2 separate regions of the Homo sapiens genome follow, and region 1 is linked to region 2. The links come from fine-mapping of genetic effects on gene expression. A gene starts in region 2. The other region holds a variant in brackets. All regions are shown on one strand. Distances are between the middles of the regions.

Region 1 (11,523 bases), 60 kb after region 2:
GAGCACACCACAGCTCCACAAAGCCACTGTAGCCAGACTTCCTCTCTAAATTTCTCCTTTCTGGGCAGGGCATCTCTGAAAAAAGGCAGCAGCTCCAGTCAGGGGCTTATAGACAAAACTCCCATCTCCCTCAGAGCACCGGGGGGAAGGGGCGTCTGTGGGTGCAGCTTCAGCAAACTTAAACATCCCTGCCTGCTGGCTATGAAGAGAGCAGAGGATCTCCTAGCACAGCTCTCAAGCTCTGCTAAGGGACAGACTGCCGGCTCAAGTGGGTGTCTGACCCCCATGCCTCCTGGCTGGGAGACACCTCCCAGCAGGGGCCAACAGACACCTCATATGGGTGAGCTCTGCCTGGCATCTGGTGGGTGCCCCTCTGGGACGAAGCTTCCAGAGGAAGGAACAGGCAGCAATCTTTGTTGTTCTGCAGCCTCTGCTGGTGATACCCAGGCAAATAGGGTCTGGAAGGGACCTCCAGCAAACTCTACCAGACCTGCAGCAGAGGGGCCAGACTAATAAAGAAGAAAAGAGAGAAGAATCAAATAGACACAATAAAAAATGATAAAGGGGCTATCACCACTGATCCCACAGAAATATGAACTACCATCTGAGAATACCATAAACACTTCTACGCAAATAAACTAGAAAATCTAGAAGAAATGGATAAATTCCTGGATACCTACACCCTCCCAAGACTAAATCAGGAAGAAGTCAAATCCCTGAATAGACCAATAACATGTTCTGAAATTGAGGCAGTAATTAATAGCCTACCAACCAAAAAAAAGCCCAGGACCAGATGGATTCACAGCCGAATTCTACCAGGGGTACAAAGAGGAGCTGGTACCATTCCTCCTGAAACTATTCCAAACAATTTGAAAAGAGAGACTCCTCCCTAACTCATTTTATGAGGCCAGCATCATCCCGATACCAAAACCTGGCAGAGACATAATAAAAAAAGAAAATTTCAGGCCAATATCCCTGATGACATCGATGAGAAAAATCCTTAATAAAATACTGGCAAACCGAATCCAGCAGCACATCAAAAAGCTTATCCACCATGATCAAGTCAGTTTCATCCCTGGGATGCACACGCAAATTCAACATAAGCAAATTGATAAACATAATCCGTCACATAAACACAACCAATGATAAAAACCACATGATCATCTCAATAGATGCAGAAAAGGCCTTTGATAAAATTCAACACCCCTTCATGCTAAAAACTCTCAATAAACTAGGTGTTGATGGAATGGATCTCAAAATAATAAGAGCTATTTATGACAAACCACAGCCAATATCATACTGAATGGGCAAAAGCTGGAAGTATTCCCTTTGAAAACCAACACAGGACAAGGATGCCCTCTCTCACCACTACTATTGAACATAGTATTGGAAGTTCTGGGCAGGGCATTCAGGCAAGAGAAAGAAACAAAGGTATTCAAAGATGAAGAGAGGAAGTCAAATTGTCTGTTTGTAGATGACATGATTGTATATTTAGAGAACCCCATCATCTCAGCCCAAAATCTCCTTCAGCTGTTAAACAACTTCAGCAAAGTCTCGGGATAAAAATCAATGTGCAAAAATCACAAGCATTCCTATACACCAATAATAGACAAACAGAGAACCAAATCATGAGTGAACTCTCATTCACAATTGCTACAAAGAGAGTAAAATACCTAGGAATACAACTTACAAGGGATGTGAAGGACTTCTTCAAGGAGAGCTACAAACCACTGCTCAGTGAAATAACAGAGGACACAAACAAATGGAAAAACATTCCATGCTCATGGATAGGAAGAATCAATATCATGAAAATGGCCATACTGCCCAAAGTAATTTATAGATTCAATGCTAACCCCATCAAGCTACCATTGACTTTTTTCACAGAATAAGAAAAAACTACTTTAATTTTCATATGGAACCAAAAAACAGCCTGCATAGCAAAGAACAATCCTAAGCAAAAAGAATAAAGCTGGAGGCATCATGCTACCTGACTTCAAACTATGCTACGAGGCTATGGTAACCAAAAGAGCATGGTACTGGTACCAAAACAGATATATAGACCAATGGAACAGAATGAAGGCCTCAGAAATAAAACCACACATCTACAACCATCTGATCTTTGACAAACCTGAGAAAAACAAGCAATGGGGAAAGAATCCCCTATTTAATAAATGGTGTTGGGAAAACTGGCTAGCCATATGCAGAAAACTGAAACTGGACCCCTTCCTTAAACCTTATACAAAAATTAACTCAAGATGGATTAAAGACATAAATGTAACATTTAAAACTGTAAAAACTCTAGAAGAAAACCTAGGCAATACCATTCAGGATATAGGCATGGGCAAAGACTTCATGACTAAAACACCAAAAGCAATGACAACAAAAGCCAAAATTGACTAATGGGATCTAATTAAACTAAACAGCTTCTGCACACAAAAGAAACTATCATCAATGTGAACAGGCAACCTACAGTTTGGGAGAAAATTTTTGCAATCCATCCGACAAAAGGCTGATATCCAGAATCTACAAAGTACTTAAATAAATTTACAAGAAAAAAACAACCCCATCAAAAAGTGGGCGAAGGATCTGAACAGACACTTCCCCAAAAAAGACATTTATGTGGCCAACAAACATATGAAAAAAAGCTCATCATCACTGGTCATTAGAGAAATGCAAATCAAAACCACAGTGAGATACCGTCTCATGCCAGTTAGAATGGTGATCATTAAAAAGTCAGGAAACAACAGATGCTGAAGAGGATGTGGAGAAATAGGAACATTTTTACACTGTTAGTGGGAGTGTAAGTTAGTTCTACCACTGTGGAAGACAATGTGTTGGCGATTCTGCAAAGGTCTAGAACCAGAAATACCATTTGACCCAGCAATCCCATTACTGGGTATGTATCTAAAGGATTATAAATCATTCTCCTATAAAGACACATGCACATGTATATTTATTGAAGCACTATTCACAATAGCAAAGGCTTGGAACCCAAATGCCCATCAATGATAGACTGGATAAAGAAAATGTGGCACATATACACCATGGATACTATGCAGCCATACAAAAGAATGACTTCATGTCCTTTGCAGGGTCATGGATGAAGCTGAAAGCCATCATTCTCAGCAAACTAACACAGGAACAGAAAATCAAACACTGCATGTTTTCAGTCATAAGTGGGAGGTGAACAATGAGAACTCATGGACACAGGGAGGGGAACATCACACACTGGGGCCTGTCAGGGGTGGGGGGCTAGGGGAGGGGTAGCATTAGGAGAAATACCTTATGTAGATGATGGGTCGATGGGTGCAACAAACCACCATGGCATGTGTATACCTATGTAACAAACCTGCATGTTCTGCACATGTATCCCAGAAATTAAAGTATTTAAAAAAAAAAAAGAATGTTCCCCCAGGTGGATTCTGATACAGCTGTTTGGCAGGCTGGCCTCTGTGAAATAATGATGCAAATGTTTAGATCACATGGCCTCGATGGCCTATTGCAACTCAGTGAGTTCATTGTTGGCTCACCGTTGGGTTGGGTTCACAAATTAAATCCAGGTCAGTACACTGCTTTTCCTAGGAGTTTCTACAACTTCTTCAAGACAAACAGTGTTCAGTGTTCCCTCCACATCTCCTCTGGATGAACCCATCTTAGTGATGTCTATGTGATGTTACAAGTCCTGCAGGATAACTTGGAAGCTCATCTGCTACTGCAGCTAGCTTAGCATTTTCAACTTATTCTCATTCTAAGGTGCTTATGAGGCAGGACTCTTGCCGCATCTAAAGCATGACTGTCAAGCAAGTGGCATCTGTTGCCTATTATCAGAAGCAGAAGTAGGAGCACTTCTGCCCACTGCATCTTGGTATTGGAGTCTCCAAGGAAAACCCAAAGCAGTGAAGTACTGGATGGAGCAATGCTTCACTCATAAAGAAAAGAGATGGAGTGAGGTCAGCTTCAGTGGTAGGTATTGGTCCTCCATGGCCAGGGGGTCCCTCCTGGCAGCTGGCACAGGGTCATTGGCCTGCACACACCCCTCTTGTGCTATATTGGAAGAATGCCACTCCCTTTCCACAGGGAACAGATATAATCATGGGGTTGGCCAGGTGCCAAATAACACACATGCTTATGCAGAACAAAGGAGCATACATTGAGTCTGAAACAGGGAAAGATATTCCCACCCAAGGCGACAAGTCCAGCACAGGCCGTGAGGACTCTTTATCTCTTGGTAAGGAAGTATTTCAGGCCCAAGGCCCCATTCCTATCAGCTGAGAGGATGGCATGCTACTGACTTTCCTAACAGTGACCTTGCTTGTAGGATCCTGTGACTGTCACTGCCACAACCTAGTTTCAGATTTCCTCTTAGAAATGAAGATCTGCCCACATTCAAAGCTGTCATTATCAAAGCCATTTCTCTGAACTCTTCTGAAGAATAATCTTGGAACATCTGATATGTAATGTCTTTTAAATTACTATGGAAAAAAGACAGTCCTGTTTAGATTGAATTTTCCAGATTCATTAGCTACTGGGCTAGGTCTTACTGATACCCACTTTTGTTGACATACTAGAACTTTGTAAAAAATTGGTCTTCTAAACTGAAAACCTTGGAAACTTTTAAACATTGTCCTGAGTAGTTATTTTAGAATTTTGTATATTTGTATGTCTTTTTACGTTGCCTTTATATTAATATATGCCAGAGGTGCTGGGTATTTTATTCCTTGTCAGCATCTGTATTTGTGTACTGTGGAGAGTTCCCATGGTAATAATAAAAAGATAATTTTATTAAATACCAATTTATCCCTTGACAGTTTCAATGCTACTCAGAACAAGATAGGTTTTGTAAGTTCTGGTTTCACAGACTTGTAAGTTTCAACATTTTCTGTATTGTAGAAATCAGTATCCCTGAACGCATAATGATAATTAAAATGCCTTAGAAATCCAGTATAACCAAGAATATCCTGGCATGAAGTATTAGGTCATCAATTTGTGAGGAACATTGAGAGGAATTGAGATGGAATTAGGTATAATCACTCAAACAACAGTAGGACAGGAGGACTTGGAGAGAGAGTTTGTCATTGTATCTGTGACTGGGGATATTTTGGTTTGCTTGCCATGTCAGTGCCTTATTCATCAGGGTAAATATTTTGCCCCATCTAATTATTCTTGGGCTGCTATATCCTTGCTCCCCAGATGTAAATCCCAGGCCGTATCTGGAAAAGACTGAAGTAACAACAAAGTCTGCTTTAGTTGCAGGCATGCTGAATGTTGGCCACAATAGACAGCCTCGTTGAATGAACATTTAGGACATAGTGAGACAATGGGACACATGAAAAGATTTATCTGGCCAACCACTTATTCCCTTGCCAGTGAATCTCCAGTAAAAAATGTGTCTTGTGTGACTCTAAAGTAACATGCAGTCTTTTCATGAGTTTATAGACACTTTTAAATAGAACAATGAGAGAAGAGGGTATTTTACCTTGTTTCAAGATGGGAAGATCTGGGGTTAAGGGTGGTCAGAACATACTTTTGAAGTAGGTTTACCAAAGAGGACTTCCATTCAATTCAGAAAGGAACTGAGTATGTGCAGGAAGAGAAGCAGAGTTTGAGAGAGGCTTCGGAATTGAGAGAACTGGAGGTATGCCTTCCATGGGAACTTCAGAAAGATAGCTCACATTTTTATTAGGGAGTATTCAGACCTAAGTTCCAAAAACAATTAATATGTTCTCCCTGCTTTTTAATTTGTCAAAGAGACTCTAAAATTTAATTCCTTAATTATTAGGTCTCAAAAACGTTTATTCCTATAGACCATAATAGTTGCCAATTAAAGTGGAATTAATTTTCAAATATTAAAATGCATTTGAAACTATTCATATTAATTCTGAAGCAACAAAAGTAAAACAGGACAAGTCATTGAAGAAAAAAATGTACGATACCTCTTACTGCATGCTAAATAAAGCAAATTTAAAATTTGACATTAACTAGACTTTTATTCTAGATAGAGGGACCACATCTGTTCTCTCCTAACACCCCATGAAAATCCATCTCAAAATGTACAAGTATATATTTTTTAATTGCAGCAGCTCTGATAAGCAGGATAAGCTCTGATAAGCAGGAAAGACTACGTGCTGGACTTGAGAATTTCCAAATCCTGCCACATCAGTGGTGTTGGATTGAGAAGCACAGTCATGGATTCCATTTGTTCCACCCTGTGGTGTGGAAAAGTACACATCATCTGGCAGAGGATATGAAAAAGCTCTCTGTTACCAACACAGCCTGTTGCTAGCTCTCAGATTCCAACCAGAAAGTCAGGCAGCCACATTCCTTTCTGCATGAGGATAACATTTTATAGTCAGCCAGATCAGAGTTCTTCTCCTCTTTTTTGCCTTCTCTTTTCATTCTTGATTAGAGACTACATTAGAGACTACTCCTAATTAGAAACTTGTATGTTTTAGTAGAAACCATGCCAGATGTGTGATGCAGTTCAGTG[G/T]AATGTTAGAGAGCAACTGATGGTGGCACTTTGAATTGGGATTGTAAGCGTGACAGATGGGGGCTGAGGCAAGAAGAGCCTAGAAGCATGAGTCAGTGAGTATGCATGAATGTGGGAGGGTTTGTTGGGGGCATCACATCTTGTCTTTGTCAAAGAGGTAATTGAAGACTATGCCTAAGTTTTTAACAAGGTCAAGAGATTCTGGCAGTGAGGGAAGGAGGTTTATTTATTTATCTAGAAAATATTAATTGAGCATCTACTGTGTGGCAGATGCTGTTTTGGTGATAAAGAAATATGAGTAGAGAAGAGAGACCAGGGCCTGGTTCTAGTGGGGAAGGGGAGGGACAAAAATAAGTAAACCATTGAAAAATAGAATCTTTGATCATCATCAGTACGATGAAGAAAATAAGATGGGGTTGTGCGGCAGAGTGATGAGGGCTCTTCAGACCACTCCATTGTAGCTACAACATAGACTGAGCCCAAGTCTGAAGAACTTGTTCAGAAGAAACCAGAAGAAACAAAGTTTCTGTCATTCCTTTTCTTGTTTGATTCTCACCATACCCTATTATGCAGGTACTATTACTATCTTGTTCTACAGTTGGAAAAAAGCTAAGATAATAAATGGGCAAAGATGAATTCTTAAGAGAAATAATACAAATAATTAATAAATACCAGAAACATGTTAAAATTCATGAGTAATAAATGCACTAATAATTAAAGGAATGAAATTTAAAATTATAATTAGATATAATTTTAAATTGTTCAAATTTGCAAAGATAAAAAATAAGACCAAATTATTGCAAGTGATGGTGGTGTAAAATGTAGCCCCCTCATTTGCTTCTGAGGAGAAGGTTAATTGGTATAACTTTTCAGTAAACAGTCTTACCTGTAGGAATAAATACCAAGGAAATAACCAGAAAAGCAAATAAAGATTCATATGGCAGATATTAACTGCAGTACTATGTATAAAATCCCCAACTGGAAACTACCTACATGTTTGACAGCAGGGAAATACTTTCATAGGTACAACCATTACATAGTCATTAAAGATGATGTTCATGAAGATTTATTAACAGCATGGGGAAATGATTATTAAAATATATATTTTTAAGTAGGATAGAAGTTGTATATGTGGCACGGTGAAGTTTGGTAACAGAACCACCTGAGGTCTAAGTGGACACATGACTGTTCAATTAGAAATTACATTTCACAGTTTCTCTTAGCAAGGTGTGGCCACACAATCAAGTTCTGGCCAATGGCATGTGAGCAGAAATAACGTCCAAAATTCTAGATCATGTTCCCAAAAGGAAGCTGCTTACCTTCCACATCCTTTTTCCCTTTTCCCATAGGCTGATGGATAAATGTGGCAGTGGGGTAAGCTGGTTTAGACCATGACAAGAACAACACTGTAAGAAATGACAAAACAAGATAGAAGGAGCTTTGATCCCTGGGTGATCTTGTGGAGTACAGTGTGTACCTGCTGAACCTATCGATTGAACTTTAATGAGAGAAATAACCTTTTATCTAGTTTTCAGCTATTGTGATTTGGTCTCTGTTTAAACAGCTGAAATAATATCCTAATGAATACAGATAGCACCTCTGCAAATTATATACAACATTTTCCTTCTTTATTATTATGATTATTTAATACTTAAAGACACTAACGGTCTTAGTGATAAAGCTAAGGGGCAAGTTCTGATAGATTTGTTAATGAAAGCAGAATGCTTGACATTATGCCTCTGCCATTCGGGCAATCATATTTGCATATGTTTCAGAAAAGCACTTATATATAACTCTAATAATAACAGAGCCAGGTACAAATATAAAAAGGTGAAAGCTTTGATTAGTTTCTATAAGGTTTTAACTTGATCTCAGACCTGAGGAATATTAATGGCTATTTTTGTTTTCTGCTCTTGCCCATTGCTCCCATAATAAGCAATTGTATGCTCATTGATTTATTTGACTTTGTCAGAGATTTATCTCCATAGACTGATAAATTTTCCCAATTTGGGAGAAAGGGGAGCTTCCTGTACCATGAGTGACTAATAGGCAAGAAAGAGGGACAGAGAGGAGAGAGAAACATACCTTTCTCTTGGACAACTTTACTTCCTTCTCTTTATCAGCATTATTTACTAGAACCAAGATAAACAGTCAGCCCAGGTGAACTTCTGGGAGCCTAATGGACTGCATGGCAATGCCTCATTGTTCTAGCAAAGGAAAGCTATGGTAGAACCAGCACAGGAATTGGAGGGAATGGGGGCACAGATTGGAGGGAATGGGGGCACAGAAACATAAATGGAGACTGAATGATGGGGTGGGGGGAGACGAAAGGAATGATGAATAAGAGAAGGTCAAGTCTAAATCTAAGCTTGGGAATTTTGATCCAATGTCAGGTAGGCTTTGGAATCCAGAGGCTTTTAAGTTTTAGAGAAACAAGGATGGGACAATTAGGTGGAGTAGTGTCCTTCAAGAAAATCTTTCCTTTCTAAACATGAGGTGAAAGAAGAGCAAGGACAAAAACCCAGTCTTCAGAGAAATCAGCTGACTGAACCGAGACCAAATAGCAGCCTCCAGTCCATGATTCAAGGAGAGGGCAAGACTATATTGGCTGGCACTGATGCCTTGTTGGGTTGAAGGAGAGACCCAGGTATTCAAGGGCACTACACAGAAGGAGACAAGAAGATGAAAGGAACTCTTAAATTTATTGAGCATCTAATATTCTATTTAATTCTTGCAGCAATCCTGGGAGCACCCTTAACACAAATGTTTAATGTTTTGGTCAAGATCAGGAATTTAACAGACGGAGGATTTAGATTTGTCTGTCTCTAAAATCCATGTTCTTTTTTAAATGCCATTTTGAGAATTCTCAGAGATTGTTGCCCAATACTCTTCCATAAATTGAGGAATAAAGAAGACTAAGATATTCCCCAAACTTGATGACTTGCCCCATGAGAACTATCGATTTAAGTCCCACAAGCCTCTGTGTTAGTTCACAGAGGGAAGAGGAAGCCTATGGGTAGATAGGGAGATGCCCAGGGGAGAATGAAGGATGGTTCTGCTCCATTGTCCAGAATCTCAGTTTGCTTTGTTCCAGATTAACTCCAGGTGGCCTGATACTGTGTACTGATGACCACAGCAACCTTCCAAAGGATCCACAGGAGCCTAATAGCCTTCAAAGGAAGCATCACAATATAGCATGAGAATATGCCCAATGTTGAAACTGATCAGGAAAAAGCAAGTGAAATTAATCATTATATACTTAAAAAAAAATGAAACTAAGTAAATATCCATTCACAAAGGAGGAGTTAAACAAATCACAGGGCATTTTTCCCTTTACAAAGCCAATTAAAAAGGTGGTTGAATTAATTATACTTCCATGGATGGATATCCAGGATGTATTGAGTGCAAAAAGCAAGTTAATAAGAACAACAAAAATGATATACCTATGTGCTCATATACCTCTGTGTGACACAGAGAAAGGCCAGGAAGAACATGTATCCTTTAATGGTTATTTTGGGGGAAGAGAAGGTGGAATGGGGAAGGAGTAGAGCAGTGACTTTTGCTCTTCATGCATTTCTGCATGGTTTGAATTTTGGGAAGAAAACTGAGCATTTATTACTGTTATAATATAAAATAAACCCAACACAAAAGTGAATAGTCAGTAGAATACAACTATCTTTCTGAGCCAGAGGCAGAGAATGATGACTTAAGGTCATGGATGATTCTGTATCAGCATCTAATTCAGAAATACAGACGCATGCTGAAATCTGCTCCAGTTAGGAGATCCAAAAAAATCTGCTCCAGGAGAAAAAACAAACAACCCCATCAAAAAGTGGGTGATGCATATGAACAGGCACTTCTCAAAAGAAGACATTTATGCAGCCAACAAACATGAAAAAAGGCTCATCATCACCGGTCATTAGAGAAATGCAAATCAAAACCACGATGAGACACCATCTCACACCAGTTAGAATGGCGATCATTAAAAAGTCAGGAAACAACAGATGCTAGAGAGGATGTGGAGAAATAGGAACACTATTACACTGTTGGTGGGAGTGAAAATTAGTTCAAGCATTGTGGAAGACAGTGTGGTGATTCCTCAAGGATCTAGAACCAGAAATACTATTTGACCCAGCAATCCCATTACTGGGTATATACCCAAAGGATTATAAATCATTCTACTATAAAGAAACATGCACATGTATGTTTGTTGCAGCACTATTCACAATAGCGAAGACTTGGAACCAACCCAAATGCCCATCAATGATAGACTGGATAAAGAAAATGTGGTACATATATACCATGGAATATTATGCAGTCATAAAGAAGAATGAGTTAGTGTCCTTTGCAGGGACATGGATGAAGCTGGAAACCATCATTCTCAGCAAACTAATACAGGAACAGAAAACCAAACACTGCATGTTCTCACTCATAAGTGGGAGGTGAAAAATGAGAACACATGGACACAGGGAGGGGAACATTACACACTGGGGCCTGTCAGGGGGTGGGGGGCAAGGGGAGGGATAGCATTAGGAGAAATACCTAATGTAGATGATGGGTTGATGGGTGCAGCAAACCACCATGGCACGTGTATACCTATGTAACAAACCTGCATGTTCTGAACATGTATCCTAGAACTTAAAGTATCATTTAAAAAAAAAAAAGAGACATAAATGAATGTATGTAAGATATACATTGGTTCATCCCATAAAGGCATGACATCTCAAAGTAGTGATGTGGGGGGCTTCCACCTTATAGATGGATTTAAAGATTTCCTGAATTATAATTGGTTGAAAGGGTTAAACTCCACCTGAAGGAGTGAAGTTAGCAGAAAGAAATGTTTATTGTTAAGATAAGGGGGCTTGTGGAAGCCAGGGGTCTTGTTGTGTAGATGAAGCCTCCAGGTAGCAGGCATTAGATAGAATAAATGATAAATGTCTCTTATCAGACTCTAAAAGGTGCTCCAGACTCTTAATTAAATCTCTCCTGGACGAGGAAAAGACCAGGAAAACGAATCTGATTTTTCTACAGAATGT
Region 2 (11,523 bases):
TGAGTAGAAACCATATTTTCTACCAGAATAAGGAACTAACCTTGCTTTGTTTGAGGATGTCATCAATTGATAGTCACTACACTAACATACTAGGTTACAGAAGAAAAAAAAACTGCACATTAAATGCGTTCATACTTTTTTTTTCTTTTCTTTTTTTTTTTTTTTGAGATGGAGATTCACTCTTGTTGCCCAGGCTGGAGTGCAATGGCACGATCTCGGCTCACTGCAACCTTCGTCTCCCAGATTCAAGCAATTCTCTTGCCTCAGCCTCCCGAGTAGCTGGTATTACAGGTGCCCACCACCACATCCAGCTAATTTGTTTTTGTATTTTTAGTAGAGACAGGTTTTCATCATGTTGGTCAGGCTGCTCTTGAACTCCTGACCTCAGGTGATCCACCCGCCTCAGCCTCCCAAAGCGCTGGGATTACAGGTGTGAGCCACTGCACCTGGCCTAAATGTGTTCATAATTTTTAAGATCCATCTGGGCTTCTGAAATCAGAAAAAGAATGTATCTTAGAAATGAGCTAGTGCAGTATAACTAGTGTTTTAGTTTAAAAGCACCCTCTAGGAACATAGAGAATAATGCTCTAGGAATGGGCCCTGACTCTCTGTGACTCAGTAATAACAGTCCTAATGACCAAAAAGAAATAAAGTGTCATAATGACCGTCTCACAACAGATTTATTAAAGGGAGCAAAGATACCATGTACTGAGAAAAGTGAACAACAGTGATAAGAGGCTGCCCTCAAAGCAGGGGTAACACCCAAAATATAAACATCAGGTTATGGGAAGAAATTTTAAAATAGAAATGTTCCCTACTTATACTAAGTGGGAAAAACCATTGAAATTAACTAATGAATCTTAAGAGTGACAACCAGAAGGCTGTTCCTTCACCAAGTGCTGACTGCTGTCAGGAAGACAGGTTTGGGCCTGAAAGTTTTATCTACTAAAACACTAAGTGTACACTTGAGTTTTTTAAAGGTTTCTGATTTACTGATAGGTTTCTCTAGTGCTAATCATTTTAAAACTAAAACAAAGCACAAATGGACAGCTGAGATAAAGCATGACAGTGAGCTGGGATCCCATTTGGCCTAGCAACACAAGAACTAGTTAAGGCACTGACTGACCTCCTCTTATACCTAATTGATTTGGGCACTACATTATGTAAACTTTATTTCTTCCTTAGGATGTTATTGCAGGAACCCTCCTGACTCAAGCAGGCTCCCACAGCCTCTCTGATGCAAAGCAGTCAAAATTCAAGGCCACAGTCTAGGTCATAGGAAGTCATGGTGAGCTCACAGCACAGGACTATGGCGTGGGGGAAAAGGAAAAGAGCTTAAGATTGGGTTAGGTCCCAATAGTGCTTCATTACAAGCTAGGTTACACAGGACACCACACTAATACTGATCAGCTGCCCCTGAAAGCCAGCCTTCTACCCTCTTAGAGACGAAGAGAGGGTCTCAGCCACTGCCAATGCCACTACCATTCTCCAGAAGGAATGAAAGGGCTTTGCCAGGTCTAACCACCATGGGACATTTGTCGTGGGGTGTACTTCATGCTCCTTCCAGGGCCTGGGTAAGCTGTCCATTCGGAAAAGACACCACTGCAAATTCTTCTTAAACTTGTTCCCTAGGTGATCTATTCTGTCCTCCAACCTTAAGGTTCAAGCTGTCAGAACTGTACGTAACCTCCTTTCCACAAATGTCTGAGGTTTCTCCAAAAAAGGAAATGGGGTAGTTTTTAGATTTTATAAATTATAAAGGTCACCAATCCGGCACTACCCAAGGGTGATCTAAAACCTGAGACTACATATTTTACAGTATGAAAAGAAGGGGGAATCCTACCTCTTTGTAAAATACATCCATTTGAAGAGCAATCAGAATTATTAAACCTAGATAATGGTAAGTGGCACAGGCATTGGAACATAAAATGCCTAAGGAGACTTCCCAACACACCCCCAAAGAAACCTTGTCTCTGTATATGAGCTAGTAAAATAATGGCATTTCACAACAAACGTCATCTCTCTTACTATCTCCCACTCCATAAGTTAGTGATTCTATAGGCATGGTCTGTAGCACCATTAGCATCATCTGGAACTAGTCAGAAATGCTAATTCTTGGGCCTTCACCCTAGACCTAGAGAATCAGAGACTCTGGCAGTATAGCCCAACAGTTTGAGATGTAACAAGCCCTCCAGATGATTCTGATCTGAGAACCACTGCCCTAAGATTAGGGAAGATGCTGCACCTGGGGTGGCTCAGGAGCCTGTGTGAACCCTTTTTAACTGAGTGATAATCTCACCTGTTCTTGCCTTCAATTGATACTGGCTTTTAATCTTCATAGACTGATTTCACAGATTAGGATTTGAGTCCTTAGTTCAAGGTCACTATTAGAGGTCAAGTCAGAGCTCCATTCCAGGATCTGCTGACTTCTTCATCAGCCTTGAGTTTCAAACTAAGGCCTTTCTGACCGTGCCAATTCTGGGGCCTAGGACTCTGAATGTTGATAAGGCCACCCCAGTCATCTCCTAATCTACATCATGCTGCCTTCCTCAGATAAATATGAGGACTGGAGCTCCAATTCTTAAAATCAAAAGAGATGGATTTGAGGATAGAGAAAGAAAAAGGGTAAACAGATGCTTCCAAAGGCCCAAGCAACTAAACCACTTGGTGAGGAGTGGACAGAGAGGAGAGAAGACCTAGATGTCTTGTTATAATTAAGAATTAGCTCATTCAAAACAACTGAGTAAAGAGCACAGAGACAATATCTAAGACCTGAATGGTGCTTTTAAAGTTTTCTTAGCTCTTTTCATTTTCATTATCTCATCTGAGTTTACAACAACCCTGCAATGGAGGGAGGTAAGGCCACGATTATCTCCGTTTGACAGAAGAGAAAACTTAAGTTCAGAGTGACTAATCATTTGTCCATCAGCACTGTCATCAGCTGTAAAGCTGAAACTTGACCTCAAGTCTGTCTGACTCTAGAACTGTGTAGTGTATCCACATTATGTGATTCGCACATCTAGAAATCGGCCCCAAAGCAGACTACCCTCAAGGAAAAAGCAAAGAGAAAAACAGGCAGCAGAATGGTGAGCCCCTAAATCCTGGCACTTGAGCAGTGTGAGGGTGTCCCTTTAAGAACGTAACACACAAACCCAACAGCCAAGGTGTTCAGCCAAAAAAGAAAAAAAGAGAGGCATATTTCTAGCCTGCATAATCATTTCTGGACCGATTCCCACTAGCAGCCTCTGAGACGAACAGCAGCTCACAGCCTCGGCTGAAGCTCCTCCACCCCCAGGGTGGCTCTGACTAGGGCGCAGCTCTGACTAGTGTGCAGGCAAAACCCCAAAACTCAAAACAAGAAGTGAAAAAAGTGGAGCCAGGAAAAATTCGTCGGCATCCTCCACAGCCTTACAATCCGCACAATGCCAGTTCCAGGGTCCTGGGGTCGCCCGGAAGGCAATCTTAGGAGAGGGTGGAATGAGATGGAAGTTCCTGCGGACCTACCGATCCTATTCTCTCCCACCCAGTCCCTAGGGAAGCGTAATAGGAAGGGGAGAAGGTTCGTTATGAAATCCTGGGGCCAGAACCAAGGGCAGATACACCCCGGGGACTTTCTCCTAAAGAACAAGATGTCTTTCCAAATTCTCCACCTGCAGGTCCTGTCCTCTGTGAAGATGAACGGGGTGGGGTGGTGAGGTGGCGGGGTGTTGTAAACCTGAGGAAAGGTTGGAGGGAAAATCAAGCCACCCACCTACTCCAGCCACGTTGCCCGGCGGTGTTGGTGAGGCTCGATGCCGGCGTGCACGGCAAGCGCGAATTCGGAACCTGGCGCCCTTGACCAAGCCTGAGATCGGAAAGGGGGCATCGCCCAGGGCCAGCGCCCTGGGGGCAGGGTGCCGTGCCCGCCAGAAAAGCTCGCCTCAGTTTTGGCAGTAATGATTTTCCTAGAAGATGCCAGAGTTCGCGAAGATCGGAGTGATTCGCGGATTTCTGCGCTCAAGCTAGAGGCGCAGCGACCCCGAGCTCCCCCACACTGGGAGCCTCGGGGCAGCATTCTCGGGGCCCATGCCATCGCGGGGACGGTGCGGAAAAAAAGGCTCCATCCTCAACTTTCTCGGAGGAAATCGCTCCGTTCTGCGGCTTGCCCAATACTGCCCGCACAACGGGTCCCAGGGTTGGAGAGAACCAGGGACACGAGTCCCTCTCTGCGCGCACAAAGCAGCTGCGCCGGGGCGCGCGGCCCCCTCTCCCGCCACCCGCCAACTTGGAAGAATCTCTCTGGGAGCCTGCCTACTCCCCTGGCCTCACAGCCACCCGCCTCGGACGGAGCGCCAGGCGCCCCAACAGCCGTGGCGGCTGCAACCGCATCTCCCGGGCTTGGCCTCCGCCCTGACCGCCTGGCTCCCCTCGCCCCGGTCCTACCGTGCAGCCTGGCTCGCGCCCCTGCCGTGCCAGTGCGCGGCACGCGTCCCAGAGCACGAGGCTCCTCCCCGGGGGGCTGCCCCGCGCGGGGCTCCGGGCTCCGGACAAGGCTTAGCCGGCCCGGGTGCTGGCTCGCCGCCGCTCGCGGCTCCCGCGCCGGCTCCTGCTGCCGCGCGCGAAAAGGGAGGGGTTGGGGGGAAACTCCCGGCAACTCCAACTCCGGGCGCTGGAGCTCCAGCTGCAGCCGCGCGCCCGCCCGCCGCCGAGTGCGAGCGCCTGCGAAGCAAACCTGCCCGCGCGGCCGCCTCTGAGCATGCTCAGTGCCGCCGTGGGCGAGCCCGAGCGCCCTGGCCCGGGGCAAAGAGCAGCGGCTAGGGGCTGGGGGCTGGGGGCCGGGACCCGCGACCCGCCCCAGGCCTCGGAGCGCGGAGGTGGCAGAGGAAGGGAAAGGCCAATGTAGGGGCGGGGGCCCTGAGCCAAAGACCCGGGAGAAACCGATCTGGGTGCAAGAGCCGGTGCGACTTTCACGGCTTGTGGGAAGTTTGTGGGCTAGAAAGGTGGGCTGCTTCTGTGAGCTTCTCTGTGAGACTATATTCGAAAGGACAACCAGGAAACATTTTTTTTTTTCTCTAGGAAAAAACGAATAGACCCAGCCGATGGGTTTTTATCCTGTGCGCTCCTTCCTTTATTCTTACGATAGCAAACTCAAAGATCTAATGGGGCCTGACAGGCACTGTAACTGGGGGAAGGCGAACTGGAGAGAGCTCCGAAGGCAGGGCCGCTTATCTGCTCTCAGGGTCCCTTGCTATCGGGCAAGAATTAGACCTAGTGTTGCTAGATTTTCTGATTTTTCCAGAAATGACGGAGTATATTCATGTACAATATCCTGATTTGTAAAATCTTGATAACAAATTCAATTTTCTCAAAACACCCTGGACTAAACAAAACATATCTGCGTCCCCTCCCTGCTGAACCCCCCAGACAGTGATTTGAGCATTGTGATTCTGCACTCTTTTAGCGAAGTGGTGCTGAGTGCTCACTGTGGTTTGGGAAAGTGCTGGAAAGGATCCAAGATGATTCAGAATATCTTCGAAGTACTACTAGTTACTAGGGGAAATGGGTTTTCCTGACAGTAGAGCGCTACACTTAAATGCTGGAGCGTTCAAGAAGAAAGACGTTACTAATGTAGAAAGCGGTTGTAAGAACTAACTTTTGGGAAACATCATTAGTAAAAGTATCTGTGTGGGGAGTCACTGCAGGGCCGATAACAGTGCCCCGGAAGGCACTTTTGAGCCTGAAGCAATAGGAAAAACCCCTAAACTTACCCTGTCTTTATTTAAAATTTTGTTATTTTTCATCATGCATTTTTGATATTAATTTTGATTTTTTTAAATATTCCATTAAAATATTAACCTTGATTACTGAATTCTTTGGTGAACCTTTAAGTGCTGTGACTCACCTCACCCTAGCCTGGCCCTGTTGGGGTGTTAGATGGTGGTACACAGACCTGCTTGTTTGGAGTGCAAGGGGTAAGCATTAGCATAGTGAAATAGGAAAGAGGGTTTGAGCTGTGGATGGGGGCTCAGGCAGAAGTCCTGACTGTCAGTCTGTGGCTCCTGCACTTAGTTTGTAGACTACGTGGAGATAGCAGAGATGCTGGGGGAGGAGACAATCCGAACTGAATTCTGTGAAGATGGACAGGGCAGCAGACCCAGGAAGATGGTTTGGAGGGGAAGAATGGGAGAAACGGGGATACCTAGGATATCATAAAACTGATACCCTAGGTATCCCCATTTGGTAGCTACAGTTTTATGAAAATCAGAGAAAATTGCCTGAAAAAGTAAGTTTCTTTTGCTCTGCCTATCTCTGTAGAGACATGTCATGGGGCTACCTTAGTGCCAATGAGTAGTGTGCCGGGGTCCTGGTCTTAACCTCAGCCATTTCCCTACCAGGCTTCCATGGGCAAGTGGCTCAACCTCTAAGCTTCACTTTCCTCATCTGTGGAAGGGAAAACAATTCTCATGGCGTTTTTGTGAGAATCCAAAGAAATGTATGTCTAAGGGCTTTGAAAATGTTGAGAGTTCTTACCTACAAGTCATCTATGTAAAATTTGAATTGAAATAAGGGCCTTTTTGCTTGACAAAAGCTCTAAGTAGCAAGCTTCTTTAATTTAGCAAGCCTTTCTAATGTGTTGGGATGATATTTACAAAACTTTGGAATCAGCTTTTGGGTAACTCAATAATTTTGTGAAGTAAGATACTACTGTACTAGCTTCTATTGCCAGTCATCTCCCTCTACTACCTTCCTTTTTTATCTTCACTTGCCTCTTTTTGTTCTCAATATTGCAGATCTAGTCAAGAGGACTCTCTCCCTCTGTACAAAGTGTTCTCTAACTCATGTACCGGTCATCACGGTAGTGTCTGCCTCAAACACCTGGGACCTACCTTAGTGTGGGAGGTGATTCTCCCTGCAGGTAACCTAATTTGTTGCTGCATTCATGGAGAACAAACCACTGCTTATCTATGGGAAGCATTTTAAGCATGCAGACCTCTCAAAGAAAACAAAAACAAAAACAAAAACAAAAAAGACCGTGGATGTTTAAACAAGAAGCCTTCCAGAAGTCATGTAAAGGAGGAAGTACCTAGCCCAGGATCTGTCACATAACAAGTAGTTACAAATATTTGCAGAATAAATAGCAATTTCCATCGTCAAAGTCTTCTGCATCTGTTTCACCTCCCACAGTGCCTAGGATTTTTTTTTTTTTTTAATCACAATAATGGTAAGGTCATAAAGAAGAACAAGAAGAACAGGAACTAAACATTTATGCAGGGAGAGGTTCTGTACTTTAACAAGTGAAATGCTTTGCTTACATTTTAAATTGTATTTTTAATTCTTGTTAGCAAATAATACATGGTATTTAAAAAAAGTTCAGTGCACAAAAGCTCAGTACAAGGAAAAGCAAGTTTCCCTTCTCAAGAAAGACTAATGTTGCCTGTTTCTTGCATATAGTTATAGAAATACCCTATGCACGTGAGAGCAAGCATAGTCATTTTCTTTTCCATAAAATCTAATCACAAAATGATAGAACTGAAAAAGACCTTATGGTTCATCTAGATGTTAAGTTAGAGGCTTTTAAATTGCTATTCTGGGAAAGAAAAGGAAAACCTAAAAGCGATCTTCCCTGTTTCATAAGTAAGCTCATGATTGTAAGGATGCCAGATCACGTGGCAAAACCCTCCATGTGAACATTAATCACATTAAGTGATACAAGGGAAAACTGAGTTCACCTAAAGTTGCCCTGAAACCCATAATGCCCACTGTCGACCTCAACCTAAAACACCCATGGATATAGATGTCTTAGGTTCCCTACGGCTGTTGAAGGAAGTGCTGTCTAAATAACAAATGGAATAAATTGACATGGACACAGAGGGCTTGATCTGGAATTGGGTATTATAATGTGACTATTTTGAACAGCATCTCTTATGCATCATCAATCACAGTATGTCTTCAAGACTAGTAAAGTCTATATTTAAAATTTTTTTTTCTGCTACATGGTGTAGCAAGTAGCTTTTCAAATTCTTCATTCTGATGATGTAATTTCAGATAAGACATTTAGGAAGTCATCAGCTTATTAACTTTTGGGTTGAACCATATGAAACTGCCATTTTTGTTGGTCATAGTTTCTAAAATATTGGAAATTTCAAATGTTCCATCTTCATTATATTCCTCAAAGTTAGTCCTTGTTCTAGAGCTGTAAGAGGACTTCCTTTAAGTTTTTTAGAATATCACATTTTCCTGCAAGAGCTATGTCACTAAGCTAGTTCCAAAAAACCTATTTAATGTTTGTGGTTTGTAATGGTACCAGATTCACATCTGGTCCTAGGAACTGAGCCTATTCTGTTCAACAGGGTCAAGAAAAAGAAATAAATTTCTCTTCCTCTTTTGAGGGGTATAGCACCGGCCTTTCTGGGCCTTGAAATAGGTGAAAATAATAATTATTTTCCTTTCTGCTCTTTTTGCACCTTACTTCTCCAATATTCTCCTGAAATCCTTTTTCCTGTACCTATTGTCCTCATTCTGTCTGGCCTTTTTCTATCTCAATCAGCTTGTCTTTGCTCTTTATTCTTAACAATCAGCATTCATTTAGTATGCTGCAAGTTGGAACTAAGTAAAATAACTTGATTAAATGAATTCACAGTCGTGTGCAAGACTATCTGCCGTTCCAAAGACATATGCAATTTTAAGAGTATCTTGTAGTTGCAAATGAACATTTCCATAAGAAAATTTTGGAGTTTGAAAAATGACTAGAGAAAGAATCCTGGTAGTGAGGGGCAGAAATAATATATTGAGGAGCAGGAACATTTGGTTCAGTTCCCCATTTTTATACATTTTGTAATTTCTTCTCACCCTTTTACTTTAAAAATATGGATTCTTTTAAAGTTTAGGATTTCATTTTGACTTTCACAATGGCTGTCTTGCCAGTAGCAGTGAGCACCTCCAGACTAGGGAGAGGTCTGCGCCTACTGTATGTATGTGCCATTTGTAAATTGGGAATGAAATGTGTCGCTTCTGGTAACATCGGTATGATGGGATCTGGGAGACCTTCGGAATTCAGATGGGCTTATGGAGCTTATATTTGGGACCCTATTCTGTTTCCTATACAATTACCCTTGGTCTGTGGTTTTATCCTTTAAGGGTTCTAGCTGTCTATAACTGGAGTCCACCTTCTTTTTTGACTGAGGTGACATGGTCCACATTTTATCTCTAATTTACTAAACATATAGTTCCTTCTCTGCTCTGCTTTTAAGAGTCAAGATAAATATTGACTGCTGATATCAAATTTGGTGAGCTTTGGCCCACTATCATTCACTATAAGATGGAACATTTCTGAGATATGTGGCAAACTGTGGTTCTCATTTCTTCCTTCTCACCTTTATCGGTTTTCCACTGTTCTCCAAGCTTCTTTCCAGTTTTCTAATTATATTACTTTATTCCTGAAACTGCATCAGCTTTCATATGCCAGTGTTTATAAGTAAGACATAGATTAGAAGGAGAGATAGTTCTTTGGAAAAAAACAAAAGAAAGCAGTTTTTTCTTGCAAAAGATGTGGTTACATCCTGAACTTGGTTGCTCTGTAATCATTTTATATTTCTTAGCAACACCCTTTCAATCAGATTATTAGTTCCTTGAGTGCCGAGAACAAGTCTTAAGGATCTTTGATTACCTCACCAAACACCTAGCACAGAGGAAAGAGACAATCAACAAATAACAGTTACAACTTGTTATCATTCAGGTGAGTCACTGGGGACAGGAGACAAATAGTTCATTTTAGAGATAAGGAATCTGATATTTAGAACACACATATAAATGTAAAATTGCATCTGTGATAAGTTACACAATCAAAAGGTACATTGCGTTATTAAAAGTGCGTAGTAAGGTTGGGCGCAGTGGTTCACGCCTATAATCCCAGCACTTTGGGAGGCCAAGGTGGGTGGATCACCTGAAGTCAGGAGTTCAAGACCAGCCCGAGCAACATGGTGAAACCCCATCTCTACTAAAAATACAAAAATTAGCTGGGTGTGGTGGTACAGGCTTGTAATACCAGCTACTTGGGAGGCTGAGGCAGGTGAATCACTTGAACCTGGGAGGCGGAGGTTGCAGTGAGCCGAGATCGTGCCACTGTACTCCATTCTGGGTGATAGAGTGAGACTCTGTCAAAAAAAAAAAAGTGTGTAGTAGAAACAGTGAACAGAACAAAGGAAAAGAAGACTGTTTTGAAGAAATGATTAAGCTAAGGTCTGCAGGATAAATCTGAAGTAGTTAAATAGGCAAAAAAAAAAAAAAAAGCAAAGAGAATTTCAGGCAGAGAAAATAGCATATACAAAGGCACTATGGTGGGAGGATGTATGTAAAGGTTGGAAGGAATCTTAAAGGTCTTTAAGTTTGACCTGTTGCCAATCCCACAGACTTTTCTATGTAACCCAACATCTAATAAGGACAGCTGCCACAAAAAGCAAACTGTCCTCAGCAAGAGACACCAAGAAATCTGGTATTAGGAGGCACCATGCCGTGGTAAAAAGTGTATGGATTTTATATTGGACAAATGTGGGTTTGAAATTCTGTTCCAACTCCTTGCTTTATGATCTTCTACAACTTTTCTGTCAGCTGTCTTATCTCTAAAATAGGCATATTAAGATCTATTTATAGTTGTAATTGGAGGATTAAAAGGGAGCACATATGTAATATGCTTAGAACAGTATCTGGCCCACGGCAAATGCTGAATAAATATTGCACTTTCATCCCATGACCACTCATCTTGGTAACTTCAAGAAAAATGGAAGGGGGAAACCCAGAGTGTGTTTTGAATTTCCAGTCTGAGCTGTTTCTTAGAAGCCTTGCCTTTGCCACAGGCAATCCTATTTTACTCTACAGATGGAATATAGCATTTCTTTTTTCACACACAGAAAATGTTATATACATAGAAAGTGCTTTTAAAAAATTTCTACCTTCTCTTGTCCAGATGTCCTAGTGTTTCCACCTATTACTGTATTTCCAAATACAAGCTCAAAAAGAGTAGACTAATAGTTTAGAGATTTCATTATTTACGTTTATGAAGTTATGACTCAAGATGTGACTAGTTCTGGATTGTGGTCATAAATAGTTACATATGGCTCTTCTTCCCTTATTTCTAGAATTGCTTGAATTAGAAGTGTTACAGAATAATATCCAGCAGAAAAATAAAAACATACAAAGGCTGTTTTAACCACCCTCTGCAGCAGCAAGGCCTCTATCTTAATGCAGACATGGTTTGTTGTATTAAGTTTGGAGTTTAGTAGACTGAACCATCCTAATTACTGCTTCCTTTATTTCAGCAATATTTTTGAAAGACCTATTTTTGGGTTAAAATTACTCTGTCTCCACCAAGAGCCAGAAGAACTGCTAGACTTTGAGCTAACAAAGAATCCCTTATTCTGCTAGGACACAAGTGAGTCAGTGACCACACAGAGTTTCTGTGCTGTTGGTTTGGAGATGATGGAACGATGCAGTCCACCTGCAGTCTGAGATGGAGAGGTCTTCTATATTACAAATGCAGGGCAGCTC

Which allele goes with the higher level. Positions count from the first base shown, and alleles are read on the strand shown. Sizes are in standard deviations (SD) of each study's normalised expression.
In carriers of allele T in region 1, the expression in fibroblasts of the gene that starts at base 4,692 in region 2 tends to be lower than with G alone (large effect, 0.93 SD a copy in GTEx).

Evidence for each region. PIP is the estimated chance that this variant, and not a neighbour inherited with it, causes the effect.
Region 1: its variant is fine-mapped to the expression of STXBP6 in fibroblasts (GTEx, PIP above 0.99).

What each region holds. Positions count from the first base shown.
Region 1 is chr14:25,104,966-25,116,488 of GRCh38, forward strand. No RefSeq gene overlaps it. Among named protein-coding and RNA genes, the nearest start is that of LINC02286, 46 kb to the right of the region's middle. The variant G/T (reference allele first, on the strand shown) is at 6,488.
Region 2 is chr14:25,045,456-25,056,978 of GRCh38, forward strand. STXBP6 (syntaxin binding protein 6) reads right to left here and starts at 4,692. Exons shown (of 6, transcript NM_001394410.1): 1 at 4,423-4,692. LOC124903295 (a long non-coding RNA gene) reads left to right here and starts at 4,889. Exons shown (of 2, transcript XR_007064091.1): 1 at 4,889-4,979; 2 at 6,771-7,135.